Linked DNA regions of Homo sapiens: region 1 is linked to region 2. A link means that fine-mapping ties the variant in region 2 to the plasma level of a protein whose gene starts in the linked region. Region 2 holds a variant in brackets. A gene starts in the other region. All regions are shown on their forward strands.

Region 1 (8,332 bases), not on the chromosome of region 2:
CAGGAATGTCTAATATATAAAGGTGAGAATCATATTTGATAGCAATATTTTTGAAGGATGATTATTTTGATGGAGGGCCAAATATCAAAGACAGGTCAAGTTAATGTACCTGACAGACTTGGGAGACAGGGAAGAGATGGGAAATGATCAAGATGCAACACACATATGGCCATTCTTTAAAACCATAAAGAACAAATTAGACTAATTCTAAGAAACCATTAGACATTTTTATCCCATACTGAGAAGAATGGTATGTAAACAGTGACAATACAGAGGTATTTACCTGGTCATGAGCAAATGAATCTTTGGTTTTGTTTCTTTATGGAAACAACTTTATATCCAGAGGTCTTGGTGAGAGAATGCTACATAAAAGAAAAATTAGACATCTGTAAAGGTAAGTGAATTAAAACTGATAGAGATCCTGAGACTTAAAATATATCCAAGAAAAAAAAATAGAAATGCATATCTAAAGGAATCTACTGGATGAAAACTAAGTAAACTTTACCTTTAAATTAGTAAGATTTCAACTTTTACTTCTATTTTCTAAAATCTTAATTAACTGCAAATGTTTATGGTTTGCATAAATAGTTGGACCAAAATGTCACAAAGGGTGAGCATAAATTCCACCTACAGGAGATTAGATATTTGCAGCTTCTGTAAGTAAGAGTTGGTACTGTGACCACCAAAAGCTTGACCACCACAGTTGAATTAGAGCTCCTCTCTCATACTTCTTAATGGTTTTGGTTGCCGATGTTATCAAGACATCCACAAAGTAGACTATGTTCTTTAGCGTTGTTTACTGAAGCAGCTGTTAAATTAATTAAGTTGGTATATTTTCCAAGTCTGATTAAGATATGTTTACTTCTGCTTTCACAAAACAGCTGTGATATGAGTACTGAGACACATCTTCTAAGAAACTCAAAATATAATTAAAATCATATTTTGTCCAGTTCAAGTAAAAGTTTACTTTTGCTTCTTCATGTGTTACTTTGCACTTATAGGGAATACTGGCATATATTGAAAATGCAAGATTTTGATTCCTTTAATTTTTATCTTAGTACTTACCCATTCACCATTATTGGTAACACATTAACATAGAGGATTAAAACATCAAAACAGAAAATGCAAATGCTAAAAGAAGCTCCAGTAGGCAAGGCAGATGATCCAAGAAAGATGACTGATCTAGACATGAATTCACCATTGGTCTGCTTCCCTACAGTTATGCTATGATTTGATGGAACATAATAATAGTTATGATCTGTTAACTAGAACCTAGAACTTATCTGAGTCAAATGAAGGGAAAGAGAAAGGAGGGCATGATTTCAATAAAAATCTGTTACACAAATAAGACAAAAGCTCAGAGGCACCTCAACTGCTACAGATGTGCTGCATCTGCTTGCTTGCCCATTGGGGACGATGAGATAAAGAGATTAAGACATTTACACAAAGATGGCTAGACAACAAGATCAGATCAGCAACATGACAGCTAGGTTGAGGTGTCATAACCATAGCATAGAGAAAGTGACCTACTGAACCACTTACCCCACTTACAAACAATGTTTTAATTAACTTAATGTACAAATGATATTTTACCAGGGTACAGGATGAGCTGGTTAATTCAAAAATGTCATTAGCATCAAACAGAGAAAACCAGTGATCTTTTAATAATGCCATTTTATTAAGAAAACAGCATTGGAATTTAATAATGGGGCATACATACTTTTATATCTTTTAAAGACAAATCTTACATCAAAACAACTATAACTTAAAATCCCATTCTCACATGTCAATAGTAGAAAATCTTGGTCATGGTATGTGAAAAGATTTGATGTTTACTTGGAAAACACAAGGTAGTTTGTTTCTTTTTAGTGGAACTCTAACAAGGAGTTTTGTTTGTTTGTTTCTTATTTTAAGCACTGTTGTTTCTCTAATTCCAGACATTGACCTGCTTAAACCTGAACACTGTGGATATAAAAGGATACAGAAGTGTACCTGATCTATAGAGCCCTTACTCTCCAAGCAGAAAATTGTAAAAATATACAGTACATAAGTTAACTCCATAACAGCAAAATTCTAAAGAAAGATGAGTCAGATAGACTAACAGTTTGTCTGTTACATATATAGATATTAATAGGGAATATATAATTGTATATTATTACAAATTAGAACATTAAAAGTCATAAAAGACATGAGAATAAATATAGTCACTCTTTCTGGGTCCTGAATGAAGTGTAGCCAGGTAACCTAGTCACCCCCAAATAATGATTGAAGTCAACATTTTAAATTTGAACTGACAGAAATAGACCTTACTATTTTTAATTAAACAGATTCAACGTTTCCTTTCTCTCCCTCTAAAGCATCAGATAACTTCGCAAGGAAAAGTGCTATTACATTATCTACTTGTTTCAAAAATATATTCACACCATAGTCTTGTGATAATATTGCTCTCTTTATAAAAAGTAGAAACATTAAAAGCTTTTATTTAGTTCTTGCTTAAGAAAGGAGAAATATTTAGTCCATTTACATCATGTAAAAGGTAAATTTTCTTGTTCATGTTAATGGTAGGAGGGCACCATGAATCATGTGACCGATAGCATTTCCTTCTTTACATTGGCTGCTAACAAAGTTAATGGCAGACCTAGCACCATTTGTAACAAAAACATCAATGCAGTTTTCTCTATAAACCTCATTTCTGGCTTCATCTTATCTCTCCTCCTATCACTTTACCGTTTGTCTTGATCTCACTGACCTACATTTTTTATTCATTTTTTTAAACTGAATAGATTTTTATAAGCCAACTTACATCCTTTCTAGGGCAAAGCTAGTTGAAAGAAATTATGTGACATAATGACTCAAAATGCCCAAATTATCGGATCATGGGTAATATAGAATGGTGTTCTAAGAAGGGAAGAGAACTTTCAGAAAGCTTTCTACACTCCCGATCCCTCTTTCAGGCTGCATGTGCTCAATTATACACTTTTAAAGGCAAAAACCTCATCGAACAATAAAAAGAATGCGTTAGAGCTCCTACACTTTGAATTTATTTTGTGATGTATTTAATGTGGTTATAAAAGTCCTGGTAGTTCTCTCTGTGAACCGACAGCCTGACAGAGGAGAAGAGCCAGTGGGGCAGAGAAAAAGCCACAGAAGGGGAATCTCCACAACGATCCCTCAGTTAACACATAAAGAAGATAACCTAGTTACTGGAAAGCAGGAACACGAATATAAAAAGTATGGAAGAGTGGAGAAGTATTAAATGCACACAAATTTGTCTTTGCTACAGAACAAGCAATCAGCCTAGATCCTGAGGATAGCGATTAAAAGCAGAGACTGGGTGTTTGTACATCATTGGATGAATGAGAAGCAGCCAAGAAACAGGAAAAGACTAATTTTAATTACCAGAAAAACTGCAAGAGAAAGAACACAGGGCTAGTGGTAGACGGCTTCCAGCTACAGGCTGCCTGGCACTGTACTCTCCTTGCCAATTAGAGCCAGTCAGACCCCATCGGGGGATTCAGTGAGCAGAAGAATCAGCGTCAGTCCAGGGTCAGGCTGCTCTCAAACACACATGAAAAACGGACACCAGCGGACACGGGGTGCGACCCTAGACTCCCATGCAGTTTCTTATACAGACACAGAGATAGAAAGCAGTACGTGGGATTTCCTTTCCATTAAATACAGGTGCAAACCACATTCTCTATGGAAATATATTGCAAAGGAAATGTTATATAATTTATTTAACAAATACCCAATTACCATCAGCCCAATCGTGGGAATTGGAAAACGACTCAAAGACTGAGAGGAAAAAAAAAAAAAAAGTAGAGAGGAGGACTGGCAGAACAATGGCACTAAAGCTGCCACACTGTGGATTTACTACCTGTGTTATTTTTCCAATTACAGCCATTGTAATATAAAAATTCCGAAAAAAAGGTTGCTGAGACCATTCCTTCGCTTTTTTTTAGAACTGAGTCAACACCCCAAATCAAAGAGAAATATAAACAGGCAGAGCCTGATAGTCCTTAGATGAAACGCGTAAGTGCAGAAACAAAAGAGAAGTGCTTCCCATTCAGGACTTAAGAAAATTCTGCAAAGTGAAAAAGTCCACTCTCAAACCGACCTAAGTGAACGCGTCAGTCTGTGCTGCTGCTGTCAGAGGTGTGAGCCGGGGACTACAGGAATCAGAGTGAAGACAGGAGCGGAGGAAGGGACTCTCGCCTGGATCTCCCGTGCCGACTCCAGCCAGCACGTTTGCTTTGTAATCTATGAATGTTAAATACGGAGGGGTTGCAGAGCAGAAACGCTCGGGGAAGGGGGGCAGGTCCTCTGTACTTAGCAGGGAAGGAAAATGCCGGTTGACTAGTGAGACGAGTGGAGAAACACAGAGCACCCTCCGGGAGGCGCACAGTTCGTTAAGCCCAGGGACATGCTCAATGAACCTTTGCAGCAAGAGGCAGTGAGGCGCTGGACGCGGGCGCCGGTGACAGCGCGGGCGGCCGGGGAGGGGCGAGGGGCCGCCCCGGGAGGACACAGCCAGTCAGAGGCGCGGGGCGCAGGGCGCGCGGACGCATTGGAGGAAAACACGCGAGCCCCAAACACACCAGCCGCAGGAGGCGCCGCACCTACTTCCCAATATAACCAACTACGGCGTGGGGGAGCGGAACTGCGAGAAGGCGGCAGCCAAAGTGCCATTAAAGCTCGGGGCGGAGAGGATGCGTTACCTGGGTCCCGTCTGCTGCGAGAGGCAGGGCAAGCTGGAGGATTCCCTCTGAATGATTAAGAACTCCGCAATTCGCCTCTGCCACAGGCTGCAAAGGACCCGAGGAACCGCTCTCTCTGAACTGTGCTGATGGGCAGGAGGATGGGAGACAGGAATTGAGAGTCACAGAGGAAGGACAGTGGAGTCTGGCATCTTATTGGTAAGTGGCTGACATTCCTTTGCCAGTGACTGCGTTCTGTGATTGTGCACTTCATCTCCCAGCCACTTAGGATTTTTGACACACTCTGTTCTGCAAAGCCATCCTTTCTTGCCATGTTGCCAGAATGTAAAAACTGTAAGATGAAGCTTTTTTAAATAAAGGAAACAAAACACGACTTTATTTCCTGCTGGGATTTTATGGCAAAAAGTTGAAACAAGAGTAAATATAACCTATTTGTATATCTCCTAATGCCACCCAAAATAAGAGTAAGCAATTCCTACACGCAAATTGCAAATTGTAAGGCAATAAATGCCAGGATAAAGTGAGGATGTTTCTACAAAAGAAACTAAATGTTTGGAAAATAGGATGCCGTTCTCAGGTACTGAATGTATGCCTTATGTTTGAGCAATGAGTTTCCGAGACTAAATAATTGGGCATCTGGCATTGCAATAACTTGTTAAAATTCAGTAGGGATGCTCTATAAGTGGAGTTCTACAAAGTTCGTGAGACTGAGAAAAACTGTATCTTGGATTATGCTGAGCTTTTTTCTAAAGGTTGTATAGGATTGTGATAGATTAAAAAATTATGTTCAGACATCCTTACCATGTTTTGTAGGGAGATATACGGAAGAGAATATCAATTTGCACATACACAAACCTGAGAATTACTCTGATGACCTGAACAATAAGTTGTTTCAACTATATTTATTTGCGAAAGAACCAGAATCCACTAAATATTTTAGAATTATATTACTTTTAAATCTTAGAACTGTTCTCCCAAGAAAAATACAATTTCATGTGGTAATTTAAATGCAGGTGAGAAGCAAAAAACTTTTAAACTGTTGTATGTTCAATGCCTTACCTACATTTCATTCATTTGTTTCTTAATTTAAAAGAGAAAATCATTTAGAGGGTCAATACTTCTACTTTGATTCTCAATTACGACTGTGGAAATAAGGATGAAAGAAGTAGATGTTCATTAGAATACTAGCATTTAAAATTATAGACAAATAGTCAAATTTAAAAATTAATGCAGATATCATCGATTACTGTTGAATTGCAACAGAATTACAGAAGTACTTATGACCATTACAGGGAGCTTAAAGGAGTTCATTATGATTAATATTGTGACTCTCAGTATTTTAAAAAATAATGATTAGGTCATTAACTGTTTTTGAAAATGCCTGTAGTCAATTTTGAGCAATTCTCATGGTTGCTTGCATATTCTCCTATTTCATGCTCAAATTATTCTAAGTTAAGTGGGGACTAGTATGCTGAGTCTTAAACTTAACAGGCATAAGTTTACTCTGACTCTAATCGAAAAGAGGTATGAGTAAGAATATGTCATATAAAACTAATGATAACAAATTAAAGATATTACATAAAAAGATCATCTAAGTCCATTAAAGGGAAAAAGGCAAAAAAAATCAGAGTTAAAGTTATAAAAAGGGAAATTCAATATAAAGAATAGAATTTGACAAATAGCTGGAGTGTGAGGGAATGATATTAAAGCCTATCTGAAAATAGAAAGTCAGTGAAATGATTATTACAAGTGCCAGTGTTTTTGCTTAGGAATTGGTGTATCCTTTAAATTATTTAAAACTTCTGAAAATTGAGAAAGGAGGAGAAAAACTGCTAATTTTAATTTCTTTCTGATTCCATAGACAACTGAACAGAAAGTTAGATTCTTAAAAGTTATATAAAAATATAATCCCATAGATTAACTAAATGCCGGACTTTGTCTATAAGTTGTGAGGCACATGCACACCAAGGTGCTTTTGGAAATACATCCAAAAAGCTACAGTTGTGGAATTTTTAAATGAATAGCTGAAATACCTGAATGTTTCTCAAGGTGAGCAGTTAGTACTTCAAGTATTAGGTGGTCTGAAACAATTCTTAGTCAGGGAGCCAACCTGAAATCAAATCATGAATCTATACATAGAATATGTTTATGTAAGATGAATCATTAAAATTAGTAGCATGTAAAAATTTACTTCAATCTTATGTGTCCAATTAAGTAGCGCTATCTGTTAGAAATGTACCAGGTTTGGCTGATATGTATTTCTTTAAATGTCTCTTTTACTTCACAGTTTAGAAAATCTTGACCACTTTCAGGGTAGAGGTAGGAGTGTGATTGTCTGTCACAGCTGACTTAGCAATATGGACCAGAGGGTGCCAGTAAAGGGCAAAGGGCCCGCATAGGCTGGCCAAAGCATTTTGGAGTTTGTCTTACTTCTAGACAAAATAAAGGCATAATTTGTGAAGATTAAAATAAAAATGATGAAAACTTCTCTAGATGGCTGTAATACTGTGAAGATGATTTGACTGTAGAGAGTTTGATTGGCTAAAACAAAGTTGTAGCAGAGTTTAGTGTCTCCTTCATCAGTCAAAAACTAATCCAGAATTTTATGAGGCTCAGATATTTACAATATTGTAATTTGCCGAATCCATTCTTTCTCATGTATCTTGATTACCTATTGTCTTTGAACTTTCTTTTAAAATACGGGTTTTTAAATTTTTACCAAGTCGTTGGAAATTTATTTCTCTTACTTTAAATAATAAACTCATACATTCATGTAGTTTGTTTTCTTGAAATTCTGACTCCAGGAGTTGATTTTATCTCTCTTTCTTCTTTCTGACAATCCAAGCATAAAGTAAGAGAGTAATATGTTTCTCACAAGATGTTAAGAACCGTGTTGTAAGGCTGTGCTAACATGTTACATGAACTTCTTAACACTTTATAGCAGGAAAGAGACTGGTCGGAAGCTCAAAGCGGTAGAATCACTGCAGAGGTCTATTTTCTGAGCATTTGTGATCAATAACTCCACATTAGAGGCTGGTACATTTTAAAAAGTAATGAAGTATATAAAACTCCTAATGCTTAAGATTTAAGATTAAAAACTATTATGAACTATATTCCATCTCCCTACCCACTCAAGTAAGAAATCCTGTTTTATGATTTTTGGAGATTCAAATGTGTATTGTTAGAAGTGTTCTAATAAACTGAATATTATTAGTTTATGTTTTTTCCAGACACTTAAACAGTGTTTTAGTTAATTATTTTATTTAAATTGAATGACACAAAATATAGTGTTTTAATACAGTGGCTATAAAAGCAATTTTTAAAGGGAAACATGAATTTGCTTTTTAAGAAAACTGGTTTTACAATGGATTTCTTTCATCAAAATTATTTTGAAGTATTGAATTGAATCCCAAGAAATTGACACAACACTGTATAACTTCAGTTATGTTTTGCCTATTATAAATATTTGCATAAGCTAATTGTAGATAATTTTATGTCTATTAATCCCCATAAATTAAAACACACGTCTTTAGTTTTATATCCCAGAGTAGTGCATGTTATATTTTTGACATTATACCCTCCTCAAACATAAGCTCATACGTGTTACAAAGCTA
Region 2 (8,321 bases):
GGATGAAGCTTGGAAATATTTAAAGTAAAATAAGACAGGTGTGAAAGACATATATTGTATGATTCCATTCATATGCAAGTCCAGAGCATGTAAAGCTATATAGAATCAGTTCGTGGTTATGTAGGCCTAGGATGTAGATCGGTGGGGGGCAGGGGGTGATAGCTAAAGGACAAGGGTTTTTTTTTCTTCTTCATTTTTTGAGATGGAGTCTCACTCTGTCACCCAGGCTGGAGTGCAGCGGCACTATCTCGGCTCACTGCAACCTCCGCCTCTCCGGTTCAAGCGATTCTCCTGCTTCAGCCTCTCATGTAGCTGGGATCACATGTGTGCCACCATGCCCAGCTGATTTTTGTATTTTTAGTAGAGGCGGGGTTTCACCATGTTGGCCAGGCTGGTATTGAACTCTTCACCTCAAGTGATTCACTCACCTCGGCCTCCCAAAGTGTTGGGATTACAGGCGTGAGCCACTGCACCCAGCCTAGGGGTTTTCTTTTTGAGGTGATAAAAATGTTCTAAAGTTTATAGTGATGATGCTTACAAATTCTATAAGTAGACTTAATGCAGTGATGGTTGCAAATTCTATAAATATATTTAATGTGGTGATGGTGGCAAATTCTATGAAAAACCCAAATTGTACAATTTCAATGAGTGAAAGCATGCTATGTGAATGTCTTCATAAAGGTTTTATTTAAAAAATGAGCAAACGGTAGAATGTTAACATGGCCCACGTCTATGTGGTGTCTATATTGGTTTCTATTATATGTTTTCTATGTGGTTGAAACATTCCTAATAAAATGTGCATAGTTTTTTAAAAAAGAAAACACATCAGTGGACGTGAATGCAGGATGTCTTATGAATGCTCACACAGAAGCTCTCATTCCTGAGGAATGCAGGGAAAAGCAGAAGATGGAGTAGGAGTTGGCATGGCCCAGCTAGCTCAGATGACACACGATGGTCCCAGTGGCATGACTTGGTTTGTGCGATTTGTGCTTTGGGGTTTTATTTTGGCACATTATAAAGGAGTAAAGCCTGTATACAGTCAGTTTCTGTCTATTCTAATGAAGGGCAAGGGGATGAAGGGATTTACCTTGAGTAACCATCCACTTAACATTTATTAGGAATCTTGTGATCCTATCGTCACCCGTGAGATTTCTATGTTGTTTGTGTTTAATGTCAGAGAATATCTTTTAATCGCTCATACAGTTTATGCAAATACCGTATACGTGATAAACGTCCCTACAACATGATCTTTGGAATGAACTAAGACAAAGGAAACTCTGAGGAAGGACCATGGCCTGAGAGGTGGAATTCATCCTTCCGAGGACTGAGATGAGGACGGAAAATGAACCATCGGTAAATACAACCTTAGTCCGGATACATTTGCCTAAAATGAGCTCAAAGGGCACAAGTGTGCAGACAAAGCATGCTCAATGACATCATAACTCAGAATTCAGTAAAACCCAGCGTATCAGCTCCCTCACAGGGGATGTGCCAGGGTGGGGGCCACTGTTGAGAGTCTGCACCCAGTAATGGTCAGGGACTCAGTGACAATGACTCTGGCAGCCCTGGCCGGGTATCAGCCGATTGGCCAGGAGGGGGCAGCCTGGCCCAGATCCCCCAAACCAGGTGACTCTCACTAACATTGCCCAGGGCACCAAGACCTGAAGGACATCATGGGATGCTGAAGTTAGAATCAAAGTGCAGCTACAAAAGGGCAGCCACCTGGAGCAAGTCCATCCTGGTAGCTGTCAGAAAGCACTGCATGTTTACTAACGGGGGCCGGCCTTGCTCACATTGTCAGATGGAGTTTCTCAGGAGGCCATGGCTTCTTCAGGGATCTGTTGTCCAGTGGTGAAGGGAGTGGTTTCTGGAGGCAAACCTGCCCGGGGCCGCCCCAACTGCACTGGCTCCCAGAGAGTGACCTGGCTGCGTGAGCAGGGAGACCAAACCCACCGAGAGCCTCAGCATACCCCCAGCACCTGCTGTGAGCAAGCTGCTTGGCTTCCCCAAGTGTGGATATGACGATGTCATGGGTGTTTACAGATTCCCTTGCACTGTGTCCCACAGCAGTACTGGTTCACGTGTGATACACTGCACTTGGGGTGGAGGTGTGCTGACAGTCGTAAAGAGCCGAGCCTTTCTTCATTCTTTCCCATGGCTCTGATACAGTTTCCAGATACCAGTCAGGAAGGAAGTTCCTGAGATGATGGACCTTGTCCTAGTCACATAGGGCTGCTAGGACAAAGTGTCCTAGACTTGGTGGGTGGGGGAGGCGGTGCGTATTAAGAAACAAAATGTATTTGTCAGTCTGGAGGCTGGAAGTCTGACGTTAGGGTCACAGCAAGGTGAGGTTCTGGTGAGGGCTCTCTTCCTGGCTTGCAGACGGCTGCCTTCTCACTGTGTCCTCATGTCAGGGAGAGAGAGAGAGTGCTGGGATCTCTGCTTCTTACCATGGCCCTAATCCCATCATTAGGGCCCCACCCTCATGTTCTCTTCTAACCCTGAGTAACTCCCAAAGGCCCCATCTCCAAATACCATCACGTTAGGAGTTAGGGCTTCACCACAGGAACTGGGCGGGGGGGACACATGTTAAGTCCATCAGAGTCCCCCAGTCAGCCCCACTGTGCCCATTTAGGGGCAGATTGTAGGGCTCAGGCGGGACACAGAGGTGAAGGAAGCATAGGTTCTGCCTCTTGGAAATGGCTCAGCCAAAACAAGGACAGGGACAGTGGGGCAGGAAACAGCTAGTGGGGTAAACCAGCAGAAGCCCCGAGGTGTCACTAAACCAAGGTATCACTTTCACACTTAGGTGAGGAAGTTGGCTGAGCACCCACACACGCCAGAGTACAGACCACATTCCCTTCAAACACGGCTCACTTAACATTCCTAAACCCTGCAAAGGGGAGGTGTTACCTTGTCTCCTGAGGATGGCCCTGAATGTAGAGGAGTCACGGGAGCTGCCCACATCACCCACCAGTGACTCTTCACTCCCCACATTTTCCCCAAGGGCCTGTTGTGCCCTCAGCTGGGGAAGCCCTGCCAAGATAAACTCTCCTTCCCAAAGGCGAAAGCGGGTGGCAGGCCTCCGACACTGCCCACATGGAGCGGAAGGGATGGGGCAGAGAGGCATCTGTCTGGCTGACTGCTGTGTTCTGTGGGCAGATGGGGCCAGAGAGAACCCAAACATGGCTCCCTTTGTCACTTGGCAGAGGGACCAGGCCGCCATATACCAGAGAGCTTTGCCCCATCAGCTTCTGCTGCTGGGCCAACTCCCAGCACCATGACCACAGCTCTGCATGCGGGCAGTGCTGGGACCAGTGCTCTGGCAGTCACAGCGGTCCTGAGCCAACAAGGGCCCTGGGGAGGAATCAGAACTCAGACTGTGGAGAAGAAGGTGTTGGCCAGGAGGGAACCAGGGCAGGTGCTGGGTCCTGTCCATGCTGGGATCTGAGATTCTGAGAGGTGGGTTAGGGGTAAGGGGGGCAGAGGTCGGCCACATGGGGTGAGGGGAGTTCAGCAGAGATGGGGAGGACAGGACAACCTGGGAAAAAGCAGAGTATCCTCCCCAGCCTCAGTCCCTCTCCTGATGCAGTCCTCATCTCACTCGTAGACTCCAGAAGTCTCCCTTCAGTGAACACCTGGCCCCCGACTCTCAGGGCACTTCCCAGACAGCCAGTGCCACATCCCAGGCAGCCCCTGCTCTGCCCTTGGGGTCTGTGCCTGGCAGAAGGGCGACTGACCCTCGGCCCCTCTCGGCCTGGGCCCCAGCTTCTCCTGGCCCTGGGACCAGCAGACACACCCACCTTGCGCCTGGCAGGCTGGTCATGCTTGTTCCCGTTGGTGATGGTGTGTTGGGAGGGAACTGTTTTAGATGCCAATGTAAATCTGTGTCTACATCAATTCCACACGAGTTCAGTCATCATATGGGAAGGGAATCATAGCTGTTGGGGGAGCTCCATGCAAGACCCTGAGGGCCCCTGAGGCCATTCCATGTGGCCACAGCAAGGAGCATCTGCTTCAGCCAGTTGGACAAGACTCTCTCCTGCCCAGAAACAGGCCCCTGCTCTGCGCCCCTCATCATATCCCAAACACACCCATGTGGACGGTCACCTCAACGTCTCCCCTCAGCCCAGTGCCCGTGCTCTTCCTGATGAGGGTTAAGCAGGAGCAGCCGCCTCTCCCCATGTCCATGTTGCAGGCAGCTGCCTTCTCCTCAGCTCCCACCGAGCAGAAAAAAAGCCAGCCAGCTCTCTCCATCCCAGGATTTTCCAGGGATACTGATAATGATGGGAGGCCCCGAGAAGCCTCCCTAAAGCAGGCGGGGCCTTGTGAGTGGATGGTGGGAGGGATCAGGGCTTCCTCAGCATCTGTCAGTCCCCAGAGCATCTGAAGGGGCCCCCTATAACAGGAGAAAAGAGTGGGGCCAGCCCCTGTGGGTTCCCAGTGCCTGGCCTCTCCCAGTTCCTCAGCCCTGAGGCCTCACAGACACCCTCCACAAAGCAGCACAACGCCAAGGGCAGAGGCAGCAGCCCTGAGAGCATTTTCCAAAACAACTACATTTATTCACATTTACACACAAGGCCCCCAAGGCACTGCTTCCCACCCCCCAGGCCCTCCCTTCCTGCCCTCCCCGTTCAGCCACCTTCTCCCTCCCCTCCTTCCCCTACCCTCCAAAGCTAAGGCCCAGCAAGATCAGCACTGGAGGAGAAGCAGCCTTTGCTTTGGGGCACCGGGTGCCATGAGGGTCCGAGACTTCAGAGCCCCACTTTTGGGGACTGGCATCAGAGAGTCTGCCCCATGGCGGCCCCTACTGGCTACAATGCCGCTTCTTCTTCCTCCTGGAGGCCAAGGGGTCACCCTTTCTCTTTTGAGACTGTGAGGGGCCACCCAGCCCCCAAGCCAGGGATTGCTCCCCAGAGACCCTGAGCCCAGGCCCTGGGTGCGGTGTCTTTTCAGCAGGGGATGGGCTTCCAAAGAGAGGTCGCTTCTTGGACTTGCTGGCAGGAGAAGGTGATGGGCTGAGGCCTCTTTTCTGAGCAGATGGAGACTGAAGAGCTCCCTGGGGTCCTCTCCCTCCTGGGCTGAGAAGGCCCGAGGAAGGGACAGGGCTCTGGGACAGCCTCCAGGGCCTCAGCCTGTGGTGGGAACCCACGACATAGACCATGCCAGGGAGTTCCGTCTCCTCACTTGACCCCTTAGCCAGCCCATGTGACTCCTTGACAGGAGACTCTCCAGGGAGACCCAAGGCGTCCTTGGTCCCCAGGCCGGGGCAGGTGGGTCTGTGGTCCTGGGGAGGAGAGGTTGGCCGGACAGCCTTCAGCCTGGGGGAATCCTGACATCCCAAAAGCACAGCAGGGTCTTCGGACCTGGCCATGCCAGTGCGCACTCTGCCCTGTCCCTGAGGGTCCTGGGCAGCTGTCTGGGGTGGGGAGGTTTCCACGCTGACCCTTTGTTGGGGGTCAGGGACCTCTCTCGCTGCTTCTTGGCCAGCTGCAAACTCAGAAGGACTTGAGTCCAACCTGGCCGTGCCATGTCGAGGGGCTGCCCTCCCGCACCCTTTCTCCTTCAAGGACAGGAGGCGCTTCTCCACTAGCTGCGGAAGGAAAGGGGGCACTTACTGGCGCTGCCCCAGGTGTGAGCAGGGCCCAGAATGGTGGAGACCAGGGCACTTGGGTGGGAGGCAGGGAAGCCTGAGGCAGCTGGGCTTCATGTCAAAGAGAGAGGGTGTGGCTCTGCCGGGCATCCCGTTGGGCCTCACTGCAGCTTGCATCCTGACTCCCCTCCCTGGCTCCTCTCCATCCTACTCCCTCTGAACCTGCATCTTCCCACCCCGGAGTGGCTCCCCAAGAAGCTGAACATCCCCAGCAGGGTGGGCTTAGACAATCGGGTGGGCCTTGTGTGCCGGGTCCCTCCTGCCCCTGGAGTACCTGGGTTCCCCTCCCTCCGCTGCTCTACCTGGGCAAGGGTGAGTCCTTCCTCCTGCTCCAGCTCCTGGCTTAGGGCCAAGAAATCCATCTGTGGATCTGGGGAAAGCAATTCTTCCAGGAATCGGGGGTGAATGACGGCCTCCACCTGGAAACAGAAGGAAGAAGGTGTGAACTTCCTGGGGAGGGAGTAACCTGGAGCCAAGGACACCCGGAGGAGATGCAGAAAGCGGGGAGGGCCCCATTCCCACCCTCCTGGGGCTGTTTCATATCATGGCGACCACCAGCTACACGCACAGACCACAGACCTCGTAGCATACACACATACAGACAGAGACACACAAACCACACACAGACACACAGACCCATGTACAACACAGGAAAAGACAGACACAGGTAACATACACACTCCACACTCACACCCACACAGACACACAAAGACACAGTAACAAATCACAGACACAAACACACAGCAACACACAGACACACACAGTCACATACACAGACACTCAAATCCATGGAAATACACATACTACTGAGTAGCTAAGGAACAGAGCTTAATTCCAAGGACCTGGAAGTGCCACCCCCTGGAATCCTACAGACCACAGCACTCCAGGCAAGCCCACCTTGGTGACAAAGTCTTCCTGGGAACACAGCTTGTCAATGTAGCTCAGGAGGCCCGGGTCTGAGGTTATCCCGTCCTCTTCCTGCGGCTGCTCCACTTTGCCCTTTTCCCGTTGTCCCTCAGGCTCCCCTGTGTCCCCAGGGTGAGACCCCAGCAGCTCCTCCATGATGTCCACATACTCCTGCACCACTTCAGGGGGGATCTCCTCAGGGACCTTGGTCTCCGCTGGCCTCTGGGGCCTGGGTGGTGGCAGGTGGGCGTTGGTCTCCGCTGGCCTCTGGGGCCTGGGTGGTGGCAGGTGGGCCTTGGTCTCCGCTGGCCTCTGGGGCCTGGGTGGTGGCAGGCAGGCAGTCGGGGCCTTGGGGCCATCCTTGCTGGGAAGGTACACTGAGGCAGAGAGGGAGGAGGATGGGTGTGGTGAGGGCCGCTCCTCCTGCCTGCACCACACAGGGGAGGGCAGGGCTTGGGGATGTGAAGTGGGTCCCAGCTGGGTCAGGACCACCTGAACCACAGCGCCCCGGAGGAGACGCCACAGGAGGGGCACATCTGAGACA[G/A]CATCGCTTGGGAGGAAGTTTGGAGCCACCGATATGCCGTGTACTCTCCCCGCTCATCTCTGCTTCCTGGGCAGAGCATATGTGGAGTTTTGGACAGGCAAGGGGAGAGAGAAAGTAGGAAACTTGGCCCGGTCAATACCCTGCTTCGTGATCACGGGCCACCCATGAAGTAGGTATTCACCTGGTCAATACCCAACATACACTCCCGGAAGCTGTCCTGTTGGAGGGAGCAAATCCCCCTCTTGAAGGGAAGCATGGGGTGTGGGGACAGTGGCCTCCCTTGGCCCCTTTGGCCTTTGCCATGGCTCCTGTGGGAATGTGGGAAGCTGTACCTGGCTGCTTGACCACCTCAGGGGCAGGGGGTCCTCGAGGTTCAAGCCTCGGCGGGGCTGGAGGAGGCAGGCTCTGGGGCCCCTTCATCCACTGCGATTTCTGAATCTGCATCTCCTCCTCAGCCTCAAATTCCAGGAACCTGTGGGTGAAGGAGGCCCAGGCTGTGCTGAGAGGGTCCAGGCCCCCTCCCCCCAGGACCAGGCAGCAGCTGAGGGCAGGGATGGGAGGGAGTGCCTCCGGCGGGCTGTCCAGGCCCTCACTGGGACCCATCCCCCAGTCCCAGGAGGGAGCTGCTCCCAGAGTTCTGGGCTCACCCTCCCTCACCCGGCCCCTGCAGAGCCCATGGCATCAATGGGGCTTCCTGACTCAAGTCAGGGCCACGAGGTCCAGGAGGGTCCCGGGAACCCCTCCTCCAGGTATCAGCTGGCCGGGGGTGGGGTTGATGGCAGAAGGCGTCAGGGATGATGCCCAGATGCAGGAGTCCTGAGGCTGGGACTGTGGGCCCCTGAAGGATAACCCAGGGACACGAGGCCCGGGAGACCCCTGGTCAGGAGGAAGCAAAAGCTGAGCCCAGAGGACAGGGCCCGTTTCCCCTGAGGCTGCTGTCTGTCTGTCTTCACGGACGGTTCTGCCCAGGAGCAAAGGCAGTCAGGCCAGAGAGGGGTCTCATGGTGTCCCAGGTACAGGTCTCCCCTGACCCAACTCCCTGGCCAGGCTGGGATGGGAGAAAACCGACTTCTGGCCACTGCTGTGAGGAGCCTGCCCCCCACTCTGTCTTTAGTCACTAGCACCCCTTCTCCCCATCCCCACAGCTGGAGGAGACCCCCTTTGGGCTGCGATGCTGGCTGCTCCCGCCATGACCCCCAGTGTCAAGACAGCGGTTGG

Which allele goes with the higher level. Alleles are on the strand shown, and positions count from the first base shown. The strength of an association depends on the size of the effect and on how common the allele is.
With allele G in place of A in region 2, the plasma level of the protein whose gene starts at base 4,595 in region 1 is lower (moderate association).

The links. A credible set is the group of variants that fine-mapping cannot tell apart. PIP is the chance, under the fine-mapping model, that this variant and not a neighbour inherited with it causes the effect. The UK Biobank Pharma Proteomics Project read protein levels with antibody pairs (Olink). The fine-mapping took linkage between variants from a reference panel, not from the people measured, so its PIPs are less certain.
Region 1: it holds the start of CNTN5, and the variant in region 2 is the best candidate, but not a certain one, in a credible set for the plasma level of the CNTN5 protein (UK Biobank, PIP 0.54).

What each region holds. Positions count from the first base shown.
Region 1 is chr11:99,016,355-99,024,686 of GRCh38, forward strand. CNTN5 (contactin 5) reads left to right here and starts at 4,595. Exons shown (of 25, transcript NM_014361.4): 1 at 4,595-4,916. RefSeq lists a silencer at 6,972-7,172.
Region 2 is chr9:94,313,658-94,321,978 of GRCh38, forward strand. It overlaps NUTM2F (NUT family member 2F), which reads right to left. Exons shown (of 7, transcript NM_017561.2): 4 at 7,436-7,575; 5 at 6,551-6,936; 6 at 5,956-6,072; 7 at 4,541-5,593. The coding sequence ends at 4,808. LOC105376154 (a long non-coding RNA gene) reads left to right here. Exons shown (of 3, transcript XR_930132.4): 2 at 1,204-1,353. Among named protein-coding and RNA genes, the nearest start is that of NUTM2F, 11 kb to the right of the region's middle. RefSeq lists an enhancer at 4,828-5,507. The variant G/A (reference allele first, on the strand shown) is at 7,104.